4 linked regions of the Homo sapiens genome follow. The protein of the gene in region 2 interacts with the protein of the main gene of each other region in a biochemical or structural test. Each region holds a gene or a part of one and is shown on either strand. Other genes may lie near its edges.

Region 1 (7,040 bases), on a different chromosome or scaffold from region 2:
ATCTCGGAGAAATGAAGACTTTGAGTCATATAAAACCCTGTATATGAATGTTTATGGCAGTTGTATTGGTATAGCCCAAAATTGGAAACAACCCAGATGTTCTTTAACAGGTAAATTGTTAGACAATCTTTGGTACACTCATAACAAGAAATGCTACTCGGAAATAACAAGGATTAAACTGTCAATACATGCAATAACCTGGAATGTATCTCCAGAGAATTATACTGAGTGAAAAAGTCAATCCGAAAAAATTGCAACTGCAAGATTCCATTTATATAATATTCTTAAAATGACAAAATCATAGAAATGGAGAATAGTGGTTGCCAAAGGCTAAGGAAAATGTGGTGATAGGAAGGAAGTCTGTGCCTATAAAAGGGCAACAGGAGAGATCTTGTGGTGACGGAAGTGTCCTGTATCTGTGTCAACATCAATATCCTAGTTGTGATATTCTGCAACAGTTTTGTAAGTTTTTCCCATTGGAGAAAACTAGGAAAAAGGTGCATGAGAACTCCGTATTTTTTCTTAAAACTATATGAATCTGCAATGATCTCAAAATAGAAAGCTTAACGGAAAAAAAAATACGTGATATTATCAGACAATGACTCTGTACGTTTACTATGCACAGTCCCCAAACTGGAAGAACTAGCAAAGGATTCAAGAAGGAAACAATACCACAAGGAAGGAGCAGCAGATAAGCAGCTGAGCTGTCCATCAATTCTTTTTCTGTGTGGTGATACATGTATTTAGATAACGCAGATAAAACTATAAGGAGATAATGAATTATTCCTTGGTAGATGATGAGAATCCAACTTCATGAGGAGTTTCAGTTAGTGCTGAATTACCTGGATCTCACAGAAATCATTCTGGCAGGAATGCATCATGTTCTCTCAGAGTGTTCAATGTTTGCTGGTTTGCAGCAATGATGATCTCACTCATCATGACTCCATATCAGAATATGGCAGAATCTGTACTAGTTTTATGGGTTTATTTTGTATTTTTAATCTGTGGTTTTTTCTTTTTCCTTGCTTAACAGTGGATGACATATATATAGCATACCATGTGTATGTTTTATATGTTAAGTGTATAGTGCTTAACAACTACAGAAAGGCTTAACAGGAACAGGTGAATAGCCATATTACAGAGTAATTAATGAAGGCAAAATGCCTATGTAGGTTATATAACTAAGTGTCAACTGGTTAAATAATTGTGCCCACTTAAATTAGATTCGGTGTTTATTATAGTGAACGTTAACTTGAGGGCTCAAATTCACAATAAATTTTTCTCACTCAGTTTATAATTATATTCACCTGATAAGGGTTTTCTCCAGAATGAATTAAGATTGAAGGGAAAGACCACACCCCAAAACAGAAAATCTAAAACAGATACATCCTACTAATGTACTTTTAACTTTCCGTATGAGAAAAGTCAAATGAGATAATAGGAAAGGTATCAAATAATTAGAATTCAATCTTGAGCAAATGTCAGCCATTCAGGAACACAGACAAAATAAAGACCAGGAAAAAAAGGTCTCCTAGCCACTGAAATAGCAAACATAAAGCCAAAAAAGATTAACTCTACAGGAGACACCTCATTTGGAATTGACTGACTTGTTTTACATTCACTTCAAGCAGCCTCTATTACCTAATGCCCCAAACTGCAGTAGATCAAAGGTATATACTAAAGTAGGACTGTGAACTACAGGCACAAAGGCAGATGGGGACAGCAGGGGATGAGCTAGAAAGTGGCCGTAATAGCACAGCACATTCTGTGCAGCAGTCAATAGTCAATGATGACCTTGAGTGTTCAAGAAAATTAAGCCATATTCAGCAGACACGATGACCTCTGCCTTCCTAGTTTTTTCCCCAAGCAATCGTCTTGCTTTCAAGATTTCCAAATGTCAGAAAGGAAGCACGGATGTATGGCCTCTGACTGTATGATGCATTTCATGTGTCCTACTTCCTGGCAGAAAAGGCTAAGTGCTGTGGTATAGCACTAGAATTTGGGTAGAATGGAGTCATTTAAAGAAGGTTTCCTTCTTTAGGAATTAAAGGCTTAGGGTCTGTGATTACGAAAACTGAGATAAGAGATGCTGAAGGTTCTGAGAAGGAATAGGCTTTAAGGTAAAATAATAAGTTGCCAATTCAGAGATTAAGTTGAAAATACCTGTAAGCCAACACAGTGGAGATTTGGGGAAGCAGTTCTTATAAGGGCCGAATATGAAAAGAGAAGCTAAGTAAGATAAAGGCTGCCAAGTGTCCACTGACTGATCATCAGCATCTCTGGTGAAACCAACATCATTTCAGGTGGGGGCAAAATCCTAATTACAGTCAGTTGAAGAATGAAGGAAGTAAAACTGTTGACAAAAAGTACTGACAGCTCTTATAAGCAGTTTAGCTGTGAGGGAAAGGAGAGACAGAGGTGGTTAAAGGAGGAAGGCGCAAAGTCAGGAAGCTACCAGTGGAAAGGGAAAAGGAGGGGAACAGACATGATGGGTGAAGTGGGGACTTGAAGCTTTAGAGATGGGGTCCAAAGTAGAAGGCTGGGGTTAGTTTTAAACAACAGAGACCTTCTGAGACAACATGGAAAGGGTTAAGGATGAGGTAAGCAAGTTTGCAGACATGGCATCTTTTCCTTACATCTACTGGTGGTCATCTACTAGGAGTGAGAGAATGGGCTTGAGGAGATGTGTGAAGGTTTAAAATAGCTGATGTGGAGAGAGAGGTGGCCAGGATAAGAAAAATGATTGCTAAGTATTACTGAGTACCCAGCTGGAAGCAGAGACCATACATCTGCAATGATCTCAATCTAAAAGGAGCTCTGTCTGCACAGCAGGCAAGGCAGATGGCTGGGTAGCCAGGGCTGGAGCTGTGCAAAGTGTGTGTAGTTGAAAGAAAAAGAAGGACGAGGTGGAAGGAAAAGCCATGAGTCTTATCTGAAGAGAGAGCAGCTCATTGCCTGAAAAGAAGAAAGGGGCCAGGCATGGTGGATCATGCCTGTAATCCCAGCATTTTGGGAGGCCAAGGTGGGTGGATCACTTGAGGTTAGGAGATCGAGACCAGCCTGGCCAACATGGTGAAACCCCGTCTCTACTAAAAATACAAAAATGAGCCAGGCGTGGTGGCGCACACTTGTAATCCCAGCGACTCAGGAGGCTGAGGCACGAGAATCACTTGAACCTAGGAGGTGGAGGTTGCAGTGAGCTGAGATAATGCCACTGCACTCCAGACTGGGCAACAGAGTGAGACTCTGTCTCAGAAAAAAAGAAGAAAGGGAGGAGATGGACCAGCAGCCTGAAGCTCTTACAGTGAAGACTGGATGGAGTTGGAGTGGTCAGAATGGGATAGGTGACAAAGTCCAGGGAGCAGTCAGGGAAGTGAGTACCTGAAGAGGTGGTAGAAGAGACCTGACTTCATCTTGACTAAAGTCAAGGAACTGTGGAGCGGAGTTGTTGATTGACCTCTGCAAGGACAATGCAGTGACCTAGGATCAGTCAGGAGTTAGAGCAAAGAGCAAGACCATATGATAGATGACCTTGTTGAAAAAGGACTATCCCCAGGGTCATCAGATAACAGCAACGAGGAGCTGGCAGAGGACAGAATATAAGATGACATGTACTTTAAAGGACAAAAAGTTTTGGTACAATGGTCAGGGAGGAATTGAACAGTGGGAACCTTGATGAAATGCTGGTTAGGAGAGGTGGAAGGTTTGGGCAGCAGAAGAGCACACGACCTGTAGAGGAGCGGGAAGAATAAGAAGTAAAGGAGGTGGAACAGGCAGCAAAAGCTAATCATGGGACTCTGCAGTGTGCCTGTAGGAGCCGCGGTTTACCTAAGCCTGAATTAAACGTTGTCGGCACAGCGGAATCCTGACGCTTGTAAATTTAACATTTGCAGCACAGACTCCCAACAATTGCTCCAGGTTCGTGATTGGGTCTTTGATTTTCCTGACCCATTCGTTGGGATCACACACACTGAGGAGGCTGATTTGAGGAAGGCAGTTACTTAGCAGGCCAACTCTTTGTTACTTTCCACTGATATAATAATAATTTATATAAATATAAATAATTATATATAAATTATAAATAATTATATATAAATTGTAAATAATTTATATATAAACTATATATATTATATATATCTATATTATATATAGATATATAGTTCTTCTAAAGTGGAAAACTACTCCCATCCTGGCCCAGGAGGCTCTTGTATCCTCATGAACCCAGGTTCCAGGTGCTGTGGAAGCTGCCTAGGGACAGTGGTGCAGATGCTGTGTGGCAAGCTGTAAGATAGTCAGCACAGCTGCTCAAGTCACTACGACGAAGAACTTTGGAATGAAACCCAATTTGCTTACCTTTTAATCATGTAAACTGGCCCTAATTTAACTTTCCTTTGCATCTTTCAGGGTAAACAGTAACTTAAACCATGTTAAGAAGTCAGCTCAAAAGACTCTGAAACCCAATAGATCCAGGAGGTAAGGATGGGGAAGAATTAAAAATGGACTCTAACTTTATCTTCTAGGCAAACACAGGAAAAATAGAAGATGGGGCATAGGCGTGAATAATTTGTTGGGTTTGGGACGTACTGCATTCAGATGCCTGTAGGCCACCCAGGTGTAGTTAGGTAGCTGAAAAAAAGATCTGTAGTTTGAGTGAAGGATGTGACTAGAAATATAGATGTTACAGTCATCAGAGCATCAGCAGTAAAGTCACAGGCATGGATTGGAATACTTTACAGTTCAAATGACCATGAGAAAGAATATTTTGTTTTTTCAAAAAACCATGCTTTCAAAGTTCTCGAGCATGGAGTCATTACATGCCTCCCTGGACCAACAGCACCTGCACGGCCCGGGAGCTGGTCAGATGCCGATCTCCCTCACCCTCCAAGTCAGGATCTACATTTTAATACACCAGGGGACTCGTGTGCACATTAGTTTGATAAGCCACTGGTGCAATGTTTCCCAAACTTTGGTACTTGAAATGTTCACCAGCTTTCAGTGAATGAGAAAAAGAAAATGACAAACATGTATAATCATATATTTATTCAACTTGAAGAAATGTCCTTTGTTTTGGTGTTACAGGATTCCTTTGTTGACATGTTTACCTGTTCCATCTTTCATGAAATTAAGGTAAAGGGCAATTGGGGTGATTTCCCTAAGAGCAAGTTATTTCATACTTTATTGGAACCAGGTGACTTTGAAATGCTATTTATACACGGGCACGGTGGCTCACGCCTGTAAACCCAGCACTCTGGGAGGCTGAGAAGGGCGGGATCATGAGGTCAGGAGTTTGGAGGCCAGCCTGACCAACATAGTGAAACCCCGCCTCTACTAAAAATACAAAAAAAAAATTAGCTAGGTGTGGTGGCGGGCGCCTGTAGTCCCAGTTACTTGGGAGGCTGAGGCAGGAGAATCGCTTGAACCCGGGAGGTGGAGGTTGCAGTGAGCCGAGATTGTGCCACTGCACTCCAGCCTGGGCAACAGTGAGAGACTCTATCTCAAAGAAAAAAAAAAAAAAAAAAAAGGAAAAGAAATGCTATTTCCTTTACCAAGGATATCTTCTTCACTTCATCTTGCCTTGTCATCCTAAATTTCTCATGAATCGTATTTTGATGAGCAAAGCCTATATTTTAGTTTCTTAGGGCTGCCATCACAAAGAACCACAAACTGGGAAGCTTAAAACAACAGAAGTTTATTGTCTCACAGTTCTGGAGGCCGGGCATTCAAATTCAGAGTGCTGACAGGGTCAAGGTCTCTCTGAAGGCTCAAGGGAAGGATCCCTCCTTGCCTCTCTCTAGCTTCTGGTGGTTGCCAGCCACCCCTTGGCACTCCTTGGCTGGTAGATGCATCCCTCCAATCTTGGCCTCCATCCTCACATCTCTTTCTCTCTGAATGCATTTGTGTCTAAGTTTCCCTCATCTTATAATGACACCAGTCACTGAATTAGGGCTCACCATAATTCAGTACGATGACCTCATCTTAACTTGATTACATCTGCAAAGACCTTATTTCCAAATGCGGTCACATTCACAGGTACTAGGGGTTAGGACTTAAACAGATATTTTGGGGAACACAATTCAACCTGAACAGCCTAAAATGATACATTTTTAAGGAAAATATTCTGATAATTCTCAAAATTATATGGCAAATACTGTAATACTGTGCTGTTTTCAAAATGAAGCACAAAATAAAAACATTAAGAGTATATTTTAATAAAAATGAGCATAGAACCAGCAATTTGAATTGTATTCTTCTGTTTCATTTGTTATTCCCATTGTAGACGGCATAAACTCTAATATATGTAGAGATTTTGTATTAGATTTTTCCTCACTCTCGAACTGCCCCAGCACTTAATTTCAAAAGAAATTCCTGGCATTTTCCCACTACATATACTTTTCAGCTCCTTTCTGAACATCGCTGCTTAGCATCAAAATTACTTTCAGCCAATTTGTAATCTCCCAGGTCTCAGATGGCTGAAGCAGAGTTCCTTGGGAAGTCCCAAGCCATACTAACTGGCCAGGGCTTTAAGAATGTAGTGTATCTAATGGCATTTGGTAGAACTGTTTCATATTCAGACTAAGGGTTTCATCCAAAACCTAAGATTTCAATTTGTTTCACGATATTACATAAAGTACAGTATTCATGTGGTGACTTCAAAGCAACAAAAATGTTCAACACTACTCAGTCTATGGAAGGTGAAATACTGTTTTAATATGTTAAAAAGCATATTAAATGAACACATTAATGAGAGGTAGCTCATAAACAGTACATTTCAGCAGGGCACAGTGGCTCATGCCTGTGATCTCAACATTTTGGGAGGTGGAGGCACGAGGATCACTTGAGCCCAGGAGTTCGGGATGAGACTGAGCAACAGACAGAGACCTCGTCTCTACAAAAAAAATTAAAAAAAAAAAAAAAATTAGCCAGGTGTGGTGGCATGCACCTGTGGTCCCAGCTACTCAGGAGGCTGAAGTGGGAGGATCACTTGAGATGGGGAGATGGAGGTGGCAGTGAGCCGTGATTGTGTCACTGCACTCCAGCAT
Region 2 (7,040 bases):
ATCATTGAGAGATGTGCCCTACTACAAGGGTTTGTGATAAAGGATTAATTTTCTTAATTACTATATTTTGTGAGAATCAATATTATTAGCTTCAAAGCAAAATTAGGATAGCCTTTGTTCTCCAGATTTGGGGATATTAGAACACTCCCAAGTCTGGGTCTGTTTGGTAAACATTATCCATCTGTTCCCTTACCCATAAACATCTAGAGGCTAGGAATACCTAACTTTCTGGGAATGCAGCGCAGCAAGTCCCAGCCTCATTTTCCTAGCCCTCACTCAAGATGGAGTTGCACTGGTTTGAATGCCTCTGACAGCTGCTTTGGAGGCCTGTCACATTTGTGCATCCCCGTGGAGGGCTAATAGAAGGGCCCGTGTGGAAGAGCTGTGGAGAAACCCCTGCCTGAAGCTCCTGCCCTGGGCGGGGAGGTGAAGCGTGCTGCCCGCCTGCGGTTGGTGAGGTCATCGAAACCTCCTCAGTTAGCGTTCAGCAACTTCTCCTTTTCAGGTGCCTGCAACTGGTATTTACAAAAGCTAAACACCCTTCATCACCAAGGCTACCATTTACCACATGACTGTCAGAAGAGAAAAATATAAATAATCCTCTCAAAATTGAAGTGACAAATATGCAGACAATTCCAGGCCAGGCCCTGGAAAATGTATTGGACAGACACTAGGCTGGCAAGGGTGACATTGTCTATAAAGACCTTGCATTTTCCACTTGAGCCCAGGAGTCCAGGGCTGCAGTGAGCTATGATCGCACCACTGCACTCCAGCCTGGGCAAGAGAGTGAGACCCTGTTGCAAAAAATAAAAAATAAAAAAAGACCTTGCGTCTTGCAACACCCACCACTCCCCGCCTGCCCAGCTCTGGATTGAGGTTATAAAAACCATAAAAGATTTGTCTCCTAAGGGTCCAAAATTATAGCTCATATAATTTTATCCTCTCCTTGCTGTATTTTGTGAATTCATTTTAAGTTCTTCTTGATGACTTTGTATACTGGCCTTTAAGTAATCTCAACGATTTATGACTGATGGCAAGCTATGTTAGTTTCCTTCCTTTCTTCTTTCATCTTTGGACATTTAAATGAGAAGCTTAAATGTTTCTCAAAAAGAATTTAAATTTGAACCCTCTTTTCTCTATGTTACAAAAGATGGCCCATCCAAGATAAATTAGGAGAGAATTTAAAGCAGGAGTCTTGGTGTAGGGGAAAGAATAGGAGAAAGAATAGGGGAAACTGATTTGGAATCCTAGCTGTACCCCATAGTGGTTGCAAGACCTTGTGCCAGTTCTCAGACCTCTGAGCTTCAATTTCTTCATCTATAAAATGGGTATAATATCTACTCCGTGTCGTTCTTGTGAGGCTGAAATGAAGATGTCTCTGTGCGTAGGCAGTGTCAGGTATGCCACAGGTGCTGTTTAGGTGTTAGGTTTCGACTTTCCCCTGTGCCTTTCCTCTAAGTGTAGAAGGAGCCGTAGCAGTGGGGGCAGGGATCTGCCCTGTGAGCGAGCCACCAGCCATGGCTGAAGGTGAAAGAGGAAGTTGTGCTCATTTGGGCAAAACCATCATTTCCTTTAAGTCCACTACCTTCCGCTCTTAAATAGGTCACCGAAAAGAACTTCAGAATGTGAGTTCTCAGTTTGTGAGGGTGACCTGGTGGACAGCTCACTATAGACCAGGTATTTGGAGTTATTTGTCCCATTGTATGGTCTTGCTACAAACTGGGCTCACATTTTTTTTTTTTTTTTTTGAAAGGGATAGGGTCTCACTCTGTTGCGCAGGCTGGAGTGCAGTGGTGCAATCATAGCTCTTACTACAGCCTTGAACTCCTGGGTTCAAGTGATCCTCCTGCCTCAACCTCCCAAGTAGTTGGGACTATTAAGTACGCACCACTGCACCCAGCTAATTAAAAAAAAATATTTTTAGCCACGCTTGGTGGCTTATGCCTGTAATCCCAGCACTTTGGGAGGCCAAGGTGGGTGGATCACTTGAGGTCAGGAGTTTGAGACCAGCCTGTCTAACCATACCCTGTCTCTACTAAAAATACAAAGAATAGCTGGGCATTGTGGCATATACCTGTAGTCCCAGCTACTCGGGAGGCTGAGGCAGGAGAATCACTTGAACCCGGGAGGCGGAGGTTGCAGTGAGCCGAGATCGCGCCATTGCACTCCAGCCTGGGGGACAGAGCGAGACTCTGTCTCAAAAAAACAAAAATTTTTTTTTTGGAGAATGGGATCTTGCCTTGTTGCCTATACTGGTCTCAAACTCCTGGATCCAACCAATCCTCCTCTCTCAGACTCCCAAAGCACTGGGATTACAGGTGTGAGCCACTGTACCCAACCTGGCTCACATTCTTACAGTTCACCAAAGGTATAGGGCTCCTAAATGGAAAATGAATGCCATGAGATCTCCTTTTTCTGAAGCTTGTCTCTCAGTGGAGTTGGACTGGTATAATGTCATTTTTCACATCTTGAAGTGGGTTGCAAATGACCAAGTGTAATTCTTGGATAGTGTTTGAAATGTGACTTTTTCTGATTATTAAGCTAGGGAAGAAGGCTTCCTTTCCAACTAACCATTTTTTTTATTGTGGTAAAATATATGTAACATTAAATTTACCATTTTAACCTGTTTTTTTGAGACAGAGTCTCACTCTGTCACCCAGGCTGGAGTGCAGTAGTGTGATCTTGGCTCACTACAACCTCCCTCTCCCGGGTTCAAGCGATTCTCCTGCCTCAGCCTCTAGAGTAGCTGAAATTACAGGCATGTGGCACAACACCCGGCTATTTTTTGTATTTTTAGTAGAGATGGGGTTTCACCATGTTGGTCAGGCTGGTCACAAACTCCTGACCTCAAGTGATCTGCCCGCCTTGGCCTCCCAAAGTGCTGGGATTACGGGCGTGAGCCACTGCGCCTGGCCCCATTTTAACCATTTTTAAGTGTGCAGTTCAATGTCATTAAGAATATTCACATTGTTGTGTGATCATCACCGCCATCCATCTCCGGAACTTTTTCATTTTCCACAACTGAAGCTCTATACCCATCAAACATTAACTCCTCATTCTCTCCTTCCCCTCCTCCGGCAATCACCATTCTACTTTCTGACTGGATGAATTTGACTAACCCAGGAACCTCACATAAGTGGACTCATATAGTGTTTGTCATTTTCTAACTGACTGATTTCACTTTTTTTTTTGTTTTTTTTGAGATGGAGTCTGGCTCTGTCGCCTAAGCTGGAGTGCTGGAGTGCAGTGGCATGATCTTGGCTCACTGCAACCTCCGCCTCCCGGGTTCAAGCAATTCTCCTGCTTCAACCTCCTGCATAGCTGGGATTACAGGTGCTCGCCATGATGCCCGGCTAATTTTTGTATTTTTAGTAGAGACGGGGTTTCGCCATGTTGGCCAGGCTGGTCTTGAGTTCCTGACCTCAGGTGATCTGCCTGCCTCGGCCTCCCAAAGTACTGGTATCACAGGCGTGAGCCACTGTGCCTAGCCTGATTTCACTCTTTTAAAAAATTCTTTATTTTTATTTATTTATTTTTAGAAACAGAGTCTCACTTTGTCACCCAGACTAGAGTGCAGTGGTGCAATTATAGCTCACTGCAGCCTCGAATTCCTAGGCTCATGTTGAGTAGCTGAGAGTATAGGCGCACACCACCATGCCGGCAAATTTTTTAATTTTTTATGGAGATGGAGTCTCGCAATATTGCCCAGGCTGGTCTTGAACTCCTGGCCTCAAGTGATCCTCCTGCCTCAGGCTCCCAAATCTCTGGGATTACAGGTGTGAGCCACCATGCCCAACCCCCTCCCCACTTTTTTTTTTTTTTTAATTCTGTGTTGTATTATTATTATTTTTTTACTCCCTGGCAGGGACCATTCCTTACTACAAACTTGATTTTCTCTGAGATTTAATTATACATCATTTGCACGCCACCCTTCTTAACTGTTTGTGTATGATCTTTGCTTTTTTTTTTTTTTTTTTTTTTTGAGATGGAGTCTCACTCTGTTGTCCAGGCTGGAGTGCAGTGGTGCGATCTCGGCTCACTGCAACGTCTGCCTCCTGGGTTCAAGTGATTCTCCTGCCACGGTCTCCTGAGTAGCTGGGACCACAGGCGCCTGCCACCACACCCGGCTAATTTTTTATATTTTTAGTAGAGATGGGGTTTCACCATATTGGCCAGGCTGGTCTCGAACTCCTGACCTTGTGATCCACCCACCTCAGCCTCCCAAAGTGCTGGGATTACAGGTGTGAGCCACCGCACCTGCCCTGATCTTTACATTTTTACCCTACTGAAGGAAAACATCACTCATCGGAAGTGATTCCATGGAATATTTTTTTTTCTTTATTTTTAGAATGAGCTCTTTATTGAATCAGGATTTGAGGTGATTATACGCTAAGCACAACACTGGATCCTATCTTTGTCTAGCGCGTGTCTTCTCAAAAATAAAAGTGCAAAATAAAAAACAAAACAAAAGAAATAAAAGTGCAAATTCTGCTCTCAGCCGGGTGCAGTGGCTCACGCCTGTAATCCCAACATTTTGGGAGGCTGAGGCGGGCGGATCATCTGAGGTCAGGAGTTCGAGTCCAGCCTGGCTACCATGGTGAAACCCCATCTCTACTAAAAATACAAAAATTAGCTGGACATGGTCACGCGCTCCTGTAATCTCAGCTACTCAGGAGGCTGAGGCAGGAGAATCACTTGAACCCAGGAGGCAGAGGCTGCAGTGAGCCGAGATGGTGGCATTGCACTCCAGCCTGGGTGACAGAGCAAGACTCTGTGTCAAAAAAAAAAAAAAAAAAAAAAAAAAAAATTCTGCTCTCATCTACCACTTCCCGAAGAGAAAGCATGAGAATGCATGCATTGAAGAGGCTGCTGGTAGCAGAGAGGAGAGGCCAGTTCATGGGGATTGTGAACATTGTTGCAGTTGCTTCCATTCAAAGGTAACTCCTCAGCCTTTCTCCTTTCAGGTGGTATAAGTTGAAATCCAAACCAGGAAAGAAGGACAAGGAGCGAGGAGAAATTGAGGTTGACATCCAGTTTATGAGAAACAACATGACTGCCAGCATGTTTGACCTTTCTATGAAAGACAAGTCTCGGAATCCATTTGGAAAGCTGAAGGACAAGATCAAGGGGAAGAATAAGGACAGTGGGTCAGACACCGCCTCCGCCATCATCCCTAGCACGACACCTTCGGTCGACAGTGATGATGAGTCTGTGGTTAAAGACAAGAAAAAGAAATCAAAGATCAAGACCTTACTTTCCAAGTCAAATTTGCAGAAGACGCCTCTTTCCCAGTCCATGTCTGTCCTGCCGACTTCAAAGCCAGAAAAAGTGCTGCTTCGTCCCGGAGACTTTCAGTCCCAGTGGGATGAAGATGACAATGAGGATGAGTCCTCCTCGGCCTCGGATGGTGAGTTTCTGCCTCTTCCTGCTTGACCTCTCTTCTTCCTCTTACCATGCTTCGTTCTGAGAGAGAAGAAACAGACAAATCTCAAGAGAAAGAGTTTAATTCAATTCCTCAATTACAAAATCATGGTGGTGGGGATGATGATAGCGGTGGTTAAGATGCCCTCTCTAAGGCTAGGCGTGGTGGCTCACGCCTGTAATCCCAGCACTTTGGGAGGCTGAGGCAGGCAGATTGCTTGAGCCCAGGAGTTTGAGACCAGCCTGGGCAACATGGTGAAACCCTGTCTCTACAAAAAATATAAAAATTAGCCAGATGTGATGACATACTCCTGTAGTCCCAGCTACTCAGGAGGCTAGGCTGGGAGGATTGCTTGAGCTCAGGAAGTAGAGGCTGCAGTAAGCTGTGATCGTGCCACTGCACTCCAGCCTGGGTGACAGAGTGAGACTCTGTCTCAAAAAAAAAAAAATGCCCTCTCTGTTTCTTTTTTTAAAATATTTTTTGTTTGTTTGTTTTAGAGACAGGGTCTTGCTCTATTGCCCACGCTGGAGTGCAGTGGCGCGATCATAGCTTACGGCAGCCTCCAACTCCTGGGCTCAAGGAATCCTCTCACCTTGGCCTTCTGAGGAGCTGGGACTACAGGTGTGCATCATCACACCTGATTAATTAAAAAAAATTTTTTTTTTAGAGATGAGGTCTCACTATGTTGCCCAGGCTGGTCTGAAACTCCTGGCTTCAAGTGATCCTCCTGCCTCAGCCTCTCAAAGGGCTCTTATGACCGGTGTGAACCATTGCCCATGGCTGAGATGCCCTCTCTATTTCTAAGCCCTCTGGTTTCTTTCCTTCTTTCTTCCTTCCTTCCTTCCTTCCTTCCTTCCTTCCTTCCTTCCTTCCTTCCTTTCTTTCTTTTCTTTTCTTTTGAGATGGAGTCTTGCTCTGTCACCCAGGCTGGAGTGCAATGGTGCGATCTTGGCTCTTTGCAACTTCCGCCTCCTGGGTTTAAGCAATTCTCCTTCCTCAGTCTCCCGAATAGCTGGGATTCCAGGTCCGTGCCACCACACCCGGTGAATTTTTGTATTTTTAGTAGAGTTGGGGTTTCACCATGTTGACCAGGCTGGTTTTGAACTCCTGACCTCAAGTGATCCACCTGCCTTGGCCTCCCAAAGTGCTGGGATTATACCCTCTGGTTTCTAAGAATGTATAAATTCCTTTTCCAGAGTTCCTGGCTCTATAAATGATGTCCACTAGTACAAGCTTTTAGAGCTAACAGAATGAGTGTCTTCCAAGTTTTTTTTTTCTTTTTTTTAAGGGTAAAACCATGGAACCTTATGGTAATTCTGATATTTCATTAATTCATCAGGTAGTTATTGAGTTCCTGTGATGTGCTCAACCCTCGTGGGATATAGCCTTATCAGAAGCCAAGGAATCTGCTTCCTTTAGCTCTGAGTTAATTATGTATTTTGAACTTCAATTTCAATGTCTAAATCCCTCCCATTGGCCGGATTCTGCTACTCTACCAAGAGTGCTGCCCTTTTCATTGGTTTAACCCAGAGTTTCTCAACCTCAGCACTGTGGACAGTTTAGACTAGACAGGCCTTTGTCGTGGGGGGCTGTGCTATACGTTGTAAGATGTTCAGTA
Region 3 (7,040 bases), on a different chromosome or scaffold from region 2:
AGAAAAAATTAGCCGGGCGTGCTGGTGGGTGCCTGTAGTCCCAGCTACTAGGGAGGCTGAGGCAGGAGAATGGCATGAACCCGGGAGGCGGAGCTTGCAGTAAGCTGAGATCGCGCTACTGCACTCCAGCCTGGGCAACAGAGAGAGACTCTGTCTCAAAAAAAAAGAAAAAAAAAAAAAAAAGAAATGAAAATAAAAAAGAAAGTAAAACAGAATCAATCTCAAAGGGGCAAGCAGAGGGGCCCGATCACATGACCCTCACAGAAGGGCAGGTTTTTCAGAGATCAGGGCAGCCTAAACACCAAAAGCACGGAAGAAGAACACGTGAGCATCTCACCACGCTCACATCCCTCTCGGCCTGTCTGTGTGACCACTGAGGTGGGGGCTGGTGGGAGGTGGAGAGACAGACTCTAGCGTGACACCCCCACGCTTCTCCTGCTCCCGACGGGATCTCCCCAGGCTGCTGGGAGGAGCGGCTCTCTAAGTGTATGGCCTGAGTCAGGGGGCACAGCTGGAACTGACGGGCATGGGGCAGGTGGCCTGGGACCTTGGGCGCCACCCTCCCCAGGCACACACATTCGTAATCTTAATTTTCTAGGGGTGGATGATATGCATTCTCCTTGAAAACATGATTTCTGCTAACACTATTCCAGGGTGAAACCCCATCAGACCCCAGAACAAGGAAGGCCCTGCACCCCCACTGCACTGTGCTCTGGGAGCACCACACTTCTTCCTATGGGGCCCGGGACATACTCAGCCGTAAGCCATCTCGATGGTAGCAGCTCCCGGAGTAGGCACCCTCCTGGATCTCCCGCTGCAGGCCAGCAGCCCCGCGCATCACGATCACGGGCGTGGAGGTGACCTGGACGTTCAGCCTTGGCTCCTCTGCTGATGGGCACGTGTCCTCAGGGCCAGCATCCAACGTGGAAGGAACGTGTCCTGGGCTTTCTCTGTCGCTTGCTGCATAATGCTCAGAGGACACCAAACAAACCTCAAGCGGTTCTGTTGGATCATGTCCCACACAGCTCTCCCGGAACCGTCGGCCTTGGCCAAGGTCAACACAGGTGCCGGTCAGTAGTAACAGCTCCCTGTCATCCAGGACACACGACCCCTGTTCCTGGAGACTGCCTACATCTGGATCGGAGCCCACTGCCAAGGAAGAGGGTGTCTCTCTGAGTTCAGACGTAGCACAGGAACAATTTGATGACGTTTGGTCTGTCTGGTCACTGAAAAAGAGTTCCTTGAGGTTCCAGGAAAACGAATTCACATCAACCTCCTGGGCCTCCACTGCTTCCAGGCCCCCAGGGAGGTCCGTGGCCAAGGCATAGCAGGCTGAGGAGCTGCCCGTGCAGCCACCGCACAGGTCTCTGCCTCCCAGATCGCAGGACGACACAGGAGCGGTGACAGCCTGGCACTCTGTCGGAACGAGTTCGGCGTGGGGGACATCCAGGGCTCCTGCAAGGCTCAACTGGGACAGCTGCTCCTTAATCAAGCAGGTCTGCAGCTCTTCTCGGTCGTTTTCCACTCCCAGCCACGGCTCATCTAGAGTAGGTGTCCCAAACGAGAGGCCTGCCATCCCAGAGGGGCTGGGGGCCAAGTCCTGGCTTCGCCACCACAAGCCCCATTCACTCCCATAGCAAGGGCAGTGCATCAGGAGGCTGCCCCCCGCCAGCTGACCCTTGGCCTGGGGCTTGGCCACGGCAGCCCCAGCCCAAAGGTCTGAACCGCTGGGACCACTGACTCCCATCCGCTCTAGCTGGGCCTTCTGACACAGGCCACACATGCCAGCATCACTGCCCCCATCCTCAGCTGGGACTGGAGCTTCAGAATCTTCGCAGGAAGCAAATGGCTTCACATCCACTGGTTCAGACCTGCTTTCTCCCAGAAGATCCTGTCCGGGGCTCTCTATTGCCACAGGTTCCTCTCTCCCCAAGGCAGTGATTTGCTGGTCCTTGGGCAGCGCCTGTTCACCGTGCACTGGCAGGCTTCCTTCTGGGACATTGTCCACCCTGGGGATAATGACATGGGTGACCATCATGTAGGGCCACAGATGAGTCAAAAGGAGAGATTGCACCGATTCTCCATTAGAACTAAGTACAAAGCATTTAATGCCACCAATTTATAACAAGAAAAAGACCAAATTTTGTGACCAAGTTAAAAAATAAAGCACTTAGTCTCAAATTTCTCCAAATTAAGTCCACATTTAGAAATGATTTTGCAGAGAATGCTACCAAAAGCCCAACAGTAAAGTACAGGAGAACTTGCCAATGCTTTGGTCAGCGCTCTCGCTTCATCTCAGGGCCCCCAAACCCCCCGTCAGCCGTGCAGCCTAGCCTCGGCCCCACCTGCAAGGGGAAGTCCGTGCTGCTGCCTTGAGGAGGTGTGAGAGGAAACGAGAGAGAGATTGGAGAGTCCCTGGTAAACTCCACAACAGTAAAAAAACAACTGATTGACTACAAACACCATCCGATTTCACAGCCGACTAGGGAAATGGCTCTCAGATTTGGGAAATGGCTCTCAGATGGGGCCCACACAGAAGGGGCCAGGGGCCAGGGGGCCGGGCGTGGTGGCTCACGCCTGTAATCCCAGCACTTTGGGAGGCCGAGGTGGGCAGATCACTTGAGGTCAGGAGGTTCGAGACCAGACTGGCCAACATGGCAAAGTCCTGTCTCTACTAAAAATACAAAAATTAGCCCGGTGAGGTGGCAGGCACCTATAATCCCAGCTACTTGGAGGCTGAGGCAGGAGAATGGTTTGAGCCTGGGAGGCAGAGGTTGCAGTGAGCTGAGATTGTACCAGCTCACTGGTGAGATGGGTGACAGAGTGAGACTCCGTCTCAAACACAAACAAAAAAAGAAGGGGACACGGGCCGAAAAAGAGAGAGGAGGCTGGTGAGGGCGGCTCCTAAGAGGTGGCACACAATGTCCTCCAGCATTCAGCACATGGTGACCCATGAGGAGGCTGCCACAGTCCAGACAGGATGATCACAGAGCCAAGGGACCCAGGCCTCCTGTCAGCCCAGCCACTGGCCTCCACATGACAGACTGACACTGGGCACCAGATGCACAGAATGTGACCGCACCACCTCACTCGGGGACAGACACACAGGTTAACATCAGCAACCTAATAAAGGTATACCAGAGGCTCAGAAAGAGGACAGGATCGGGCACAGTGGCCCACACCTGTAATCCCAGCACTGTGGGAGGCTGAGCCCAGGAGTTCGAGACCAGCCTGGGCAACATAGTGAGACCTCGTCTCTACAAAACATTTAAAAATTAGCCAGCGTGGTGACACACACCTGTAGTCTCAGCTACTTGGGAGGCTGAAGCGGGAACCTCGCTTGAGCACAGGAGTCTAGGCTGCAGTGAGCTGTGATCGCACCACTGCACTCCAGCCTGGGCAATGGCCAAGACCATCTCAAAAAAAAAAAGACGGAAGAGGAAGGATACAACCCAAGGGTGGGTTCCACAGAGAAAGGGATTGTGAGCCAAGTTCTGAGGAAAAGCAGTTTTCTGAGGGGAACTGAGGGGGAGGCTGAGGGTCTGCGTCTGCCTGCCTCTCTCCCTCCATGTCTCCCGCCTCTCTCCCTCCATGTCTCCCATCTCTCTCTCCCCTGTACCTCCCTCTCCCGCTCTCCATCCATCCCATGCTTGAGACAAACCCCATGCAAATGCTAGGAAACTGCACATCCTCCTGCAGGATCAGGTAAGACAGGAGGCGAATGCACACCACGAGGGTCTCACAAAGCCCCTTGCCAAAGAGTCTGGGCAACTTCTGGGGCACAGTCCAGACACAAAGCTGAGGCCCCTGGGCAGCACTGCATCTTCACCCATGCTCTTGGGGCCTTAGCGGGCTGCTGCAGCCTCAGTACCCGTTCTCTCCACAGTCACCTGGGTCCACGGCCCTTCCATCAAAACCCTTGGGCCAGATGTGTTTGGGGATTTCAGAAAAGTCATATGACCACTTGCTAGGGAGACCCCAGCAGGCTGGGGAGAGGGCTTCACGGGCATCCACTGCCCTGTGTCTGCAGCAAGGCCTCTGAACACTCAAACTGCAGAGGTCAAGGGAAAACCACAAACAGCTTCTCACGTGCTTAGGGCCAATTTGACCGTCCAATGCTTTTAGCATCAATTCTAAGAAAAATATTTCAGTGTTGGGGGCTTTTTGGATTTCATAATTTTGGCTAAGAGATTGTGAAACTGTGGATCTCTGACTTTCAGCATGACAGCAACTCAGGAAACATGAGGACATCCTCCAGCTGCCCTGGCAGCCAGGCATCGCCACGCCACTCAGTTCTGGCCAGCATGCAGTCAGGGCATGAAGGATGTGATCTGCCGACTGCACACAGGCCTTGAGCTGCTGGGACCTCAACCCAGGGCAGCCCCAGGGACCGTAGGTCCTCCAGTGGGGAAGCACCAGGACCTGACCCCCGTGGAGACCCGAGACCCCCACCTGCTGTCTGAGCACATCACCTGGGGTCTCTTCGAGGACCTGATGCCCAGTGTAACAATTCACTCAGCTTCAGCATCCATTTGCTAAAAATCAGACTACACTCCCAGGATTACCAGGAGAACTAAAGGAGACAACTTACGAGGAAGCACCCAACGTAGTCCCTAAAACACAAAAGCACTCCGTACAGCTCACCTCCTTCCTTCATGCTTCCTAACCCTGTTCTGTCTTACTGTTTCAGCTTATTGTCCTGACCAGACTACAATTCTTAGGGACACACCCCAAGTCTTCTGTAATGCTTATTTGTTGAATAAGCGAACGAGTGAGTGAATGACTGAGCGGGGAATGAATGGATAAATCTCTATAGTCATAACTGCACTAGCTGTGCAGTGGATGCTAATCAAACTCTCAGAACTGTGACATCCAGAAACGTCCAATGCAATAGAAAGACTAGGAATTGGCTGATCTTGGGCAACTCCCTTGGTACCACCAAGTCCTGGAAGATGAGTTGTGTCCAAGGTCCTGAGGATAGCAACGGGCCACGTGGCCTCTGTCCACCAAGATGTCCCAGACAACGGGAGCACTGGCAAGGGGGCCCGGCCGCTAGTGCTGTTGAGCACCCACGGGTCAGACTTGGGCCCTCAACCACGGCCGCCCCACTTCAGCTTGGTGGCACCTCTGGAGAGGTGCGCACAGCAATATTATTCATAGTAATATTGAAAACTCACGTGTTGAGCGCCTGCTCTGTTCCACTCGCAGTGGAAGTAGAGCAAATAGAGCCAACAGCTACCCTCTCACGCCACTCAACGCGGACCCACAGTGGCAAAGGGAAAATCAGGGAGGCTAAGCAAACAAGAGAAAGCACCGGCACATCGGCCAGTGGGAAAGTGGCCCATGAGCTAGGGTGCCATCCAGGAGGCTTCGGTTCCGAGGAGGCCTGTAGAGGAAGATCTGCAGGACATGTGTGTGCGTACACATACACACACATTTAGGACACTGTGTATGGTATAATCCCAGCCGTGCTCAGGGAACAGAAGCAGTTACATGTGAGCACACATATGCACATGCACACATAGAAGTATAATATACAACTATAGTTAAATGCACAAGAAAGAAGGCCTGGAAGGCTCTAACTGCTGACTGCGGTCCCCTGGGGGAAAGAGTAGGATTGGAGGAGGGGGATTGGAAGACGGCCAGGGGAACTATTGCTTTTACCATTATTCTTCTATAATTAAAAAAACACATATGCATGTATTACATTTTTTTTTTTTTTTTGAGACGGAGTCTCACTCTGTCGCCCAGGCTGGAGTGCAGTGGCGCGATCTAGGCTCACTGCAAGCTCCGCCTCCCAGGTTCACACCATTCTCCTGCCTCAGCCTCCCGAGTAGCTGGGACTACAGGCGCCCGCCACCATGCCTGGCTAATTTTTTGTATTTTTAGTAGAGACGGGGTTGCACCGTGTTAGCCAGGATGGTCTCCATCTGCCGACCTCATGATCCACCCACTTCAGCCTCCCAAAGTGCTGGGATTATAGGCGTGATCCACCGCGCCTGGCCCATGCATTACATATTTTTAAACATACATACATACTTTATATGTATCTATTACATATTTTTTAAATAATTTCAAGACTAGAAAACACAACTATGTGGATAAATATCACAGACACAGCAATAAGCAGAAGGCAGACAGAAGGAAATGCATGCGTCAGGCTCAACGGCAGGCAGTCTAACCTCTGCCCTGACCCAGGGCAGCAGGGTGTAGGGGGCACAGTGCAGGAAGGGACCCAGGGTCTGCAGGCAGCCAAGAAAGGGTCCTGGGCCACCTGGGCACCTACAGTTTGGGCACCTTTACTGCATGCTGTGCATAAGAAAAGATTCTGGGTCAGGTATGGTGGCTCACACCTGTAATCCCAGGACTTTGGGAGGCCAAGGCGGGTGGACCATGAGGTCAAGGGATCGAGACCAGTCTGGCCAACATAGTGAAACCCCGCCTCTAGTAAAAATACAAAAATTAGCCGGGCGTGGTGGCAGGTGCCTGTAGTCTCAGCTACTCAGGAGGCTGAGGCAGGAGAATCACTTGAACCAGGGGGCAGAAGTTACAGTGAACCAAGATCACGCCACTGCACTCTAGCCTGGGCAGCTGAGTGAGACTCCATCTCAAAAAAAAAAAAAAAAAAAAGATTCCGAAGAAGAAAATGGGTTAAAAATACACACACACGTGCTATGTACAATACGACTATGAGAATAGAACAAGTTTTTATTTCTACTTTTCCAAATGTTCCTAATTCTCTAATATAAACTTTCTTTACTCTAAATAGAATATTTTAAAATGTGCAAAGAGAACAGCTTCATATGACTTTGAAAATGATAAAATTAATCCCAGCACTTTGGGAGGCCAAGGCGGGTGGATAACAAAGTCAGGAAATCGAGACCATCCTGGCCAACATGGTGAAACTAAAAAAAATACAAAAAAGTAACCGGGCGTGGTGGCGGGCGCCTGTAGTCCCCAGCTACTCGGGAGGCTGAGGCAGGAGAATGGTGTGAACCCGGGAGGCGGAGCTTGCAATGCAATGAGCAATGAGCTGAGAT
Region 4 (5,999 bases), on a different chromosome or scaffold from region 2:
CACTTCCCTAGAAATACCTGAGAAAATGGTATGCTGAGAGATTAGAGGTTGTCAACAGGGGGACAGGTGCTAAAAACAGTACATTATTCATTGGGATGAGAGTTAAAAAGGTCTGAGATTTTGTGGTTTGGAGCAAGGTTAAGTTCCACTGACTCAAACATAGTAAAGGAATCCTGTTGGCTGCTAATTCTCACTACCATCACTGGTACTGGTAACATAGTTAGCCAATATACATAACATTTTGTGCTCACACCCGTGTCAGGAACTATCCTATAATTAATAAATGTCAAAGAATTGAATTTAAATAATGTTTTGACTATTAATAATTAGATCACTAGATCAACAACCCCAAAATACCATGTGTATCATGTACATGCACACATAAACCTGTACACTTGGATTTAATCACTGGTTCTACTGGATAGCTAGCCTGTGGACTGATCTACCTTCTTGTAGATTCCTATTAAAGAAATAATTTTTTAAAAATTAAACACAAAATGTTTTTAAAAGTTCTCTCCCAGACATGAGTATATTTTAAAGTACATATTAAAAGCCAGCAGTTTTTTTTTAACAGCAAAAGCCATAAAACAAGCAGTTCTCAATTTACAGTTAACATAGCAGCCCATCAAGTGCTCCTCTCCCTTAGCATATATGGTACTTTGATGCATATTGTTGATATTGACAGTCATTTTGCAAATAAATGTTCTGAAAGCTTTCATCTTATTTAAAGGAGTAAACATGGAAATAAAGGCACCATTTTAATCAGGTTATTGTGATAAGACCAAAAACATTCCACAAAGTGCATACCTCATTTTGACTTCTCTATTAAATTTAAACTTGAGTTAAAATGTTAATAATTTGGCTTTAATTGAAGAGAGAGTTCATTCAGAGAATTACAGAGTTCGAATTGGGATGAATCCCCAGAGTTTATTTAATCTGGTACCCTCATTAATTGGAAGAATGTGAGGCTCAAAAATGAAATGACCACAAGAGCCATGACTAGAATCTCTTCGTTACTCAGTCCAGTGCTCTATCATACCAGCTACTTTCACTCTTCTAACCCACAGTTTACCGTATTTTCTAATACATGCTAGTATATTGCCTAGTACACAACATCCTTTCAAATATTCTTTCTTTATTCTCCAATTCACTTTTCAGGAGAATAGATAACCTCAATCATATTGATTCTCAGCCTAATGGTCTCCCTTACATAAATTATAATGACATAAGCATTTTGTATCACTTTATTGTTACCATCGACCTCCTACAGTTTGGGGGAACCCAATCATTCTTTAAAACATTAGAATGACAACTCCAGTTGATTTGGCATATTGTATAGGTGAGTGGGAAAGACTTGTCAAATCCCAGAAAGGGGCGTGGCACCAGCACCACCCAACCAGAAGAAAAATCTCTCTTTGGTGCTAGTGTCATAGCTCCCTATCTGTTCCGCTAACCCATTAAATGATGTGGTGGAAGAGGATCCTTTCACAATCTTTGTTCATTTTTTTACAGAGCAAATGGAAGTCATACATAACCTTTTACAAAATTCATTTTTTGTTTTAATTTTTTTCCAGGTATGTGATATTTGTGAGACATCAGAAAATCAATTTATATTTTTTTCCTCTGTTAAACCAAGCCCCACAAATTGAAACCTGACAGGTTAGAATAAGTTCTTAAATATCCACCCAGCCTTTGAATTCTTTTGCTTCTAGTGTTGGCCAAAACTGTCTAAATAGTACAGCTTCTTCTCTAAGGTAGATGGAAGAGATTATCACAACAGCTCAACCCACTAAAAGCATTTGTATTTTATAAATACCAGTCAGCAAAGACAAAAATTAAGATATTCATTTTTTCAATGATCAAAGAAATGTGACCAGCTCTGATGGGCAACCCAAACTCAAGAAGTGTAACTTTTCTGCAGAACCCTTCAGAACTTAAAAGATCACTGATGTAAGGTCACTAGCTGGCACCTCTTCTTATAATTACAATTAAATGGGCAATAACTTACCCTTACATAATGACAACTACTATTAAAGAGAAATCATGGCATTTGAGAACAATGACATAAGATTAAATCAAGGCACCATGGCTAACTATTCAGGAGACTATATAACAGGTTAAAAAAAAATTCAAGGCCAGGCACGGTGGCTCACGCCTTTAATCCCAGCACTTTGGGAGGCCGAGGTGGGTGTATCACCAGGTCAGGAGATCGAGACCACCCTGGCTAACATGGTGAAACCCCGTCTCTACTAAAAATACAAAAAATTAGCCAGTCGTGGTGGCTGGCGCCTATAATCCCAGCTACTCGGGAGGCTGAGGCAGGAGAATGGCATGAACCCTGGAGGTGGAGCTTGCAGTGAGCTGAGATGGTGCCATTGTACTCCAGCCTGGGCAACAGAGCAAGACTCCGTCTCAAAAAAAAAAAAAAAAATTCAAAGTTAAAATAACTGAAAATCAAGGTCAAGTAGCAAAATACTTCTAAACTGCCTTAAGCCCTGAACTGTCATAATATTTAAAAATTTATTGTTTCTTGCTTGAGACAGTTTGTCTCCTAAGATACTACTCAGAATAAAGACACCTGCTGAAATGCAATCAAAGTCATTTTCTAATACCTAATATTTCCTGGAATTCTCCCAAGATCCAGCCATACTCAAAGCAACATTTAAGTCTACACTTGGGTAAAAATTCTAAGTTTACTTTATTCATTTTCAATTCACTATTTAGTTTTTCTCTTTTCTCCTTACTTTGTAAAAAATCTACCACCAACTTTCAATAAAATAGAGATGGTTTCTTTTCCTGGGTCTGGTGACACTGTTATATATGAAAATACACACTACTTTCCTAATGTTTTTGGACATACTTTTTCCAAGGAAAGCATAATTGAACTGCAGTTCTAAAATCAAAGCTGAATTCACACACTGATGCTCCCAATTCAATGTTTACTCAGTAATGCAAGAACCTATGCTTTTACATCAGGATTCCACGGCTGCACCCAAAGCACTCAAAGGAAAAATGTAATCTGACAGCATAAGAAATAATCCCCCTATAACTGTTTATTAGAATGTGAATATAATCCAAATCAATAACTAAAAAAAAATCAAATTACAGAGCATGCATAAAATACAAAGTAGCAATTTACAAATAGATAATATTATCTTCATAACTAATACACTAAAATAATAAAATGGCTATAGAAGAAAACCAAAATGACTGACTACAGCAATGCCTTCCGTGTGCCCCACACATCATGAGCACCGCAAGAGACAAAAGATTAACTATGAAATATAGTAATCTAAGCAAGCCCACACATACATATTTTTGGGGATTTCCCACCATCCTGAATAGTATCACTGCAGTTGACACAACTTCCAGGAAACTGCAGAGTAAGTGCTTAATATTATCCACGAGAAAGCAAAACTAAATATTAGTGTGCACATTTCTGAATGAGAAACTAATTGCTTCATTGATTTCAACAATGTAGTGGAAGAAAACTATTTCAGATCTCTACAATGCCTAAATGCATTCTATTTAAACTCAAGGTACTATTTCATTTTACATACTAAAAGAATACATGCCTTTAAGTGGTACCACTTGAGCAGAAATTAACCTCTCACTGTACTCTTCAGACATACTGAAACCAAAGATTTAACTGGACTATATTCTATAATATACTGCAAAACTCAAATATTAGCATTGTTAAAATAATTATCCATGCCTGCTGGTGGATATGGTGATAAAACTAGGTTGTATTTCACTTACTGGAAGGTTCTAAGACAAAATTAACACTTCAAAATTTGACACTACCAGCATTAAACCAATTATTGCCTGAGCAATAAAATGCCACATAATCTACCGCTTGGAAATTATTATAGATCATTTAAATCTTTTGGGCTGCCTGATCATTGCCAACAGAGGCACCCGAGATGGAATACCACAAGTCTCTTCAGTTCCCAGCCTACCAGGCAGCACTGTTTAACTTATGGCCCCACAACCATACTACTAATGAAACCGTAACAATCTTTTGTGTTTACTAAGAGAATTCTCCAGAAAAAGTGCCCCCCTCTCTAATCAACTTTGATGCTTACAAAAATTAAAAAACAAAATTTACTCAACTACATAAACCTATTAAGGCATTTTAGAAATTCATGTCCAGAATAATGGAAAATTTTCAAGCTCTCAAAATCCTGCTATGTTTATAGGGCAATTCTTAGATTTGTGGAAATGTACACTGCACTGAGAGAAGAGTGTATTACCTATAAGCTGCTCTGTGGCAAAATGGTAGCTTATTTCTAAGGTCTTCTTAGTTTGATTTGATCAAGACCAATAGGTCTGAGCTTCAAGTGATCAAGTTCTATTATGTCCTACATACAGTGACAGGCTTCCATGATGAAAAGTAAACAATAACTGAGGAATCCAAACATTCAGTTTATTAAACTAAGGCTAGTGAAGCCATAGCATGAAAAAAAGCTGCAGTCATTCGGGACAAGTGGATGATTTTATAAAGCTAAAATCAAAAGACTTAGGACATGGAAAAATTCATAAGTATGAAGTAATAAAACACAAAAGTGACACAAGAATTACAAATATATTTAAATCTCAGACCTGGGAAATGGACTATACACAGCCTTCTAGGGGAGAAGAGAAATGCCTTAGATGTTCTGACAGCACTGCACCTTTGGCTTGTTTTCAGTGGTTGGTGGAACATGAATAGGAACCACATTGTTGCTTGGAGACATGTCATTTTCGCGTCTGTCTGACATTTGCTTCTGAGAAACAATGCGGTAAATCTCTGAAGGAAAAAAGAAACCACAATACTTAGTGTGAATAAACCTATCATAGTTAGGATAAAAGATACATAAAGGTAGGAGATATATTTGCATCAAAGTCCCTAAGGAAACTGAACAGAGAATACATAAATTTAAAGTTTTATTTTCAAACAGCCACTGATTAGATTCAACCCTTTATTTTAACAATTGCCCTTTGGGTAAGAAAAGAAACAAAGGTTTTTCCATGTCAGAGGGAAAGGTTCACCAGTCAAATAAATCTTTGTTTAAAGAGGTAAACCAGGCCAGGCAGATCACCTGAGGTCAGGAGTTCAAGACCAGCCTGACCAACATGGTGAAACCCTGTCTCTACAAAAATACAAAAATTAGCCAAGCATGATGGTGGGTGCCTGTAATCCCAGCTACTCGGGAGGCTGAGGCAGGAGAATCACTTGAACCCGGGAGGCGGAGGTTGTCGTGAGATGAGATCGTGCCACTGCACTCCAGCCTAGACAACAGAGCAAGACTCGGTCTCAAAAAAAAAAAAAAGAGGTAAGCCAATAGCATTACATTGTTTATGGACTTAGATTCAAAGTAAACCATAAGAGTATTTTCAGTCTACCTTTACCCCAAAAAACAAACAAACAAACAAAAATTGCCTACACACAATGACATTGTACCACACAAAAAATAAATAAATTTGCACTATCAGACGCATTCGGCAGAGTACATCTTAACAAACATGCTAAAATCCCAAACGATTCTTGGAAGGGAAAAAAAGATAATGTGTTTATCAGTGACCTCCTGAACAAAACTTAAATTGTAATTAAAGAATGATACAAAATAGGCAACTTAAGATGTTATATGTAAACTCTATTTTTATTTCATGACACTTATCAAAAATAATTTAGTGTCTGCCTCTTTTACTAAGTGTTAAACTCTGTAAGGATCAAAACTGTGTCTGTCTTACTGCTGTACTGCAACATATAACATGTGTTGTGATAAATAAATAACCGCATGAATGTCACTAAATTCCTCCACAATAAGTATCTGTATGTAACACGTTTGGTCTTATACTGCACTGCCTAAAAGTTGTTCCCTGTGACTAGATTATAAAGTCCTTAAGAACAGAGAATGTACCTTATTTTTGTTTACTCTCCCAGTTGTCCCTCCAAAAACACTACTCTCAAAAAGCAAGATAATTCTAAAAATGTGTCAAATTAACACAATTAGCCT

Evidence for each region.
Region 1: the proteins of RAB11FIP1 (region 2) and RAB4A form a complex in vitro, tested with the Homo sapiens proteins (one study listed by BioGRID).
Region 3: of the proteins of RAB11FIP1 (region 2) and PASK, one has a biochemical effect on the other in vitro, tested with the Homo sapiens proteins (one study listed by IntAct).
Region 4: the proteins of RAB11FIP1 (region 2) and RAB11A form a complex in vitro, tested with the Homo sapiens proteins (2 studies listed by BioGRID, with this or other methods).

Annotation. Positions count from the first base shown.
Region 1 is NC_000001.11:229,274,096-229,281,135, reverse strand, and holds part of RAB4A (ras-related protein Rab-4A), read right to left. Parts: intron 1-7,040. UniProt on the Homo sapiens protein: The small GTPases Rab are key regulators of intracellular membrane trafficking, from the formation of transport vesicles to their fusion with membranes.
Region 2 is NC_000008.11:37,875,476-37,882,515, reverse strand, and holds part of RAB11FIP1 (rab11 family-interacting protein 1), read left to right. Parts: intron 1-4,964; coding exon 4,965-5,407; intron 5,408-7,040. UniProt on the Homo sapiens protein: A Rab11 effector protein involved in the endosomal recycling process. Also involved in controlling membrane trafficking along the phagocytic pathway and in phagocytosis. Interaction with RAB14 may function in the process of neurite formation.
Region 3 is NC_000002.12:241,125,443-241,132,482, forward strand, and holds part of PASK (PAS domain-containing serine/threonine-protein kinase), read right to left. Parts: intron 2,010-7,040; coding exon 754-2,009; intron 1-753. UniProt on the Homo sapiens protein: Serine/threonine-protein kinase involved in energy homeostasis and protein translation. Phosphorylates EEF1A1, GYS1, PDX1 and RPS6.
Region 4 is NC_000015.10:65,886,491-65,892,489, reverse strand, and holds the end of RAB11A (ras-related protein Rab-11A), read right to left. Parts: intron 4,790-5,999; coding exon 4,650-4,789; 3' UTR 501-4,649; downstream 1-500. UniProt on the Homo sapiens protein: The small GTPases Rab are key regulators of intracellular membrane trafficking, from the formation of transport vesicles to their fusion with membranes.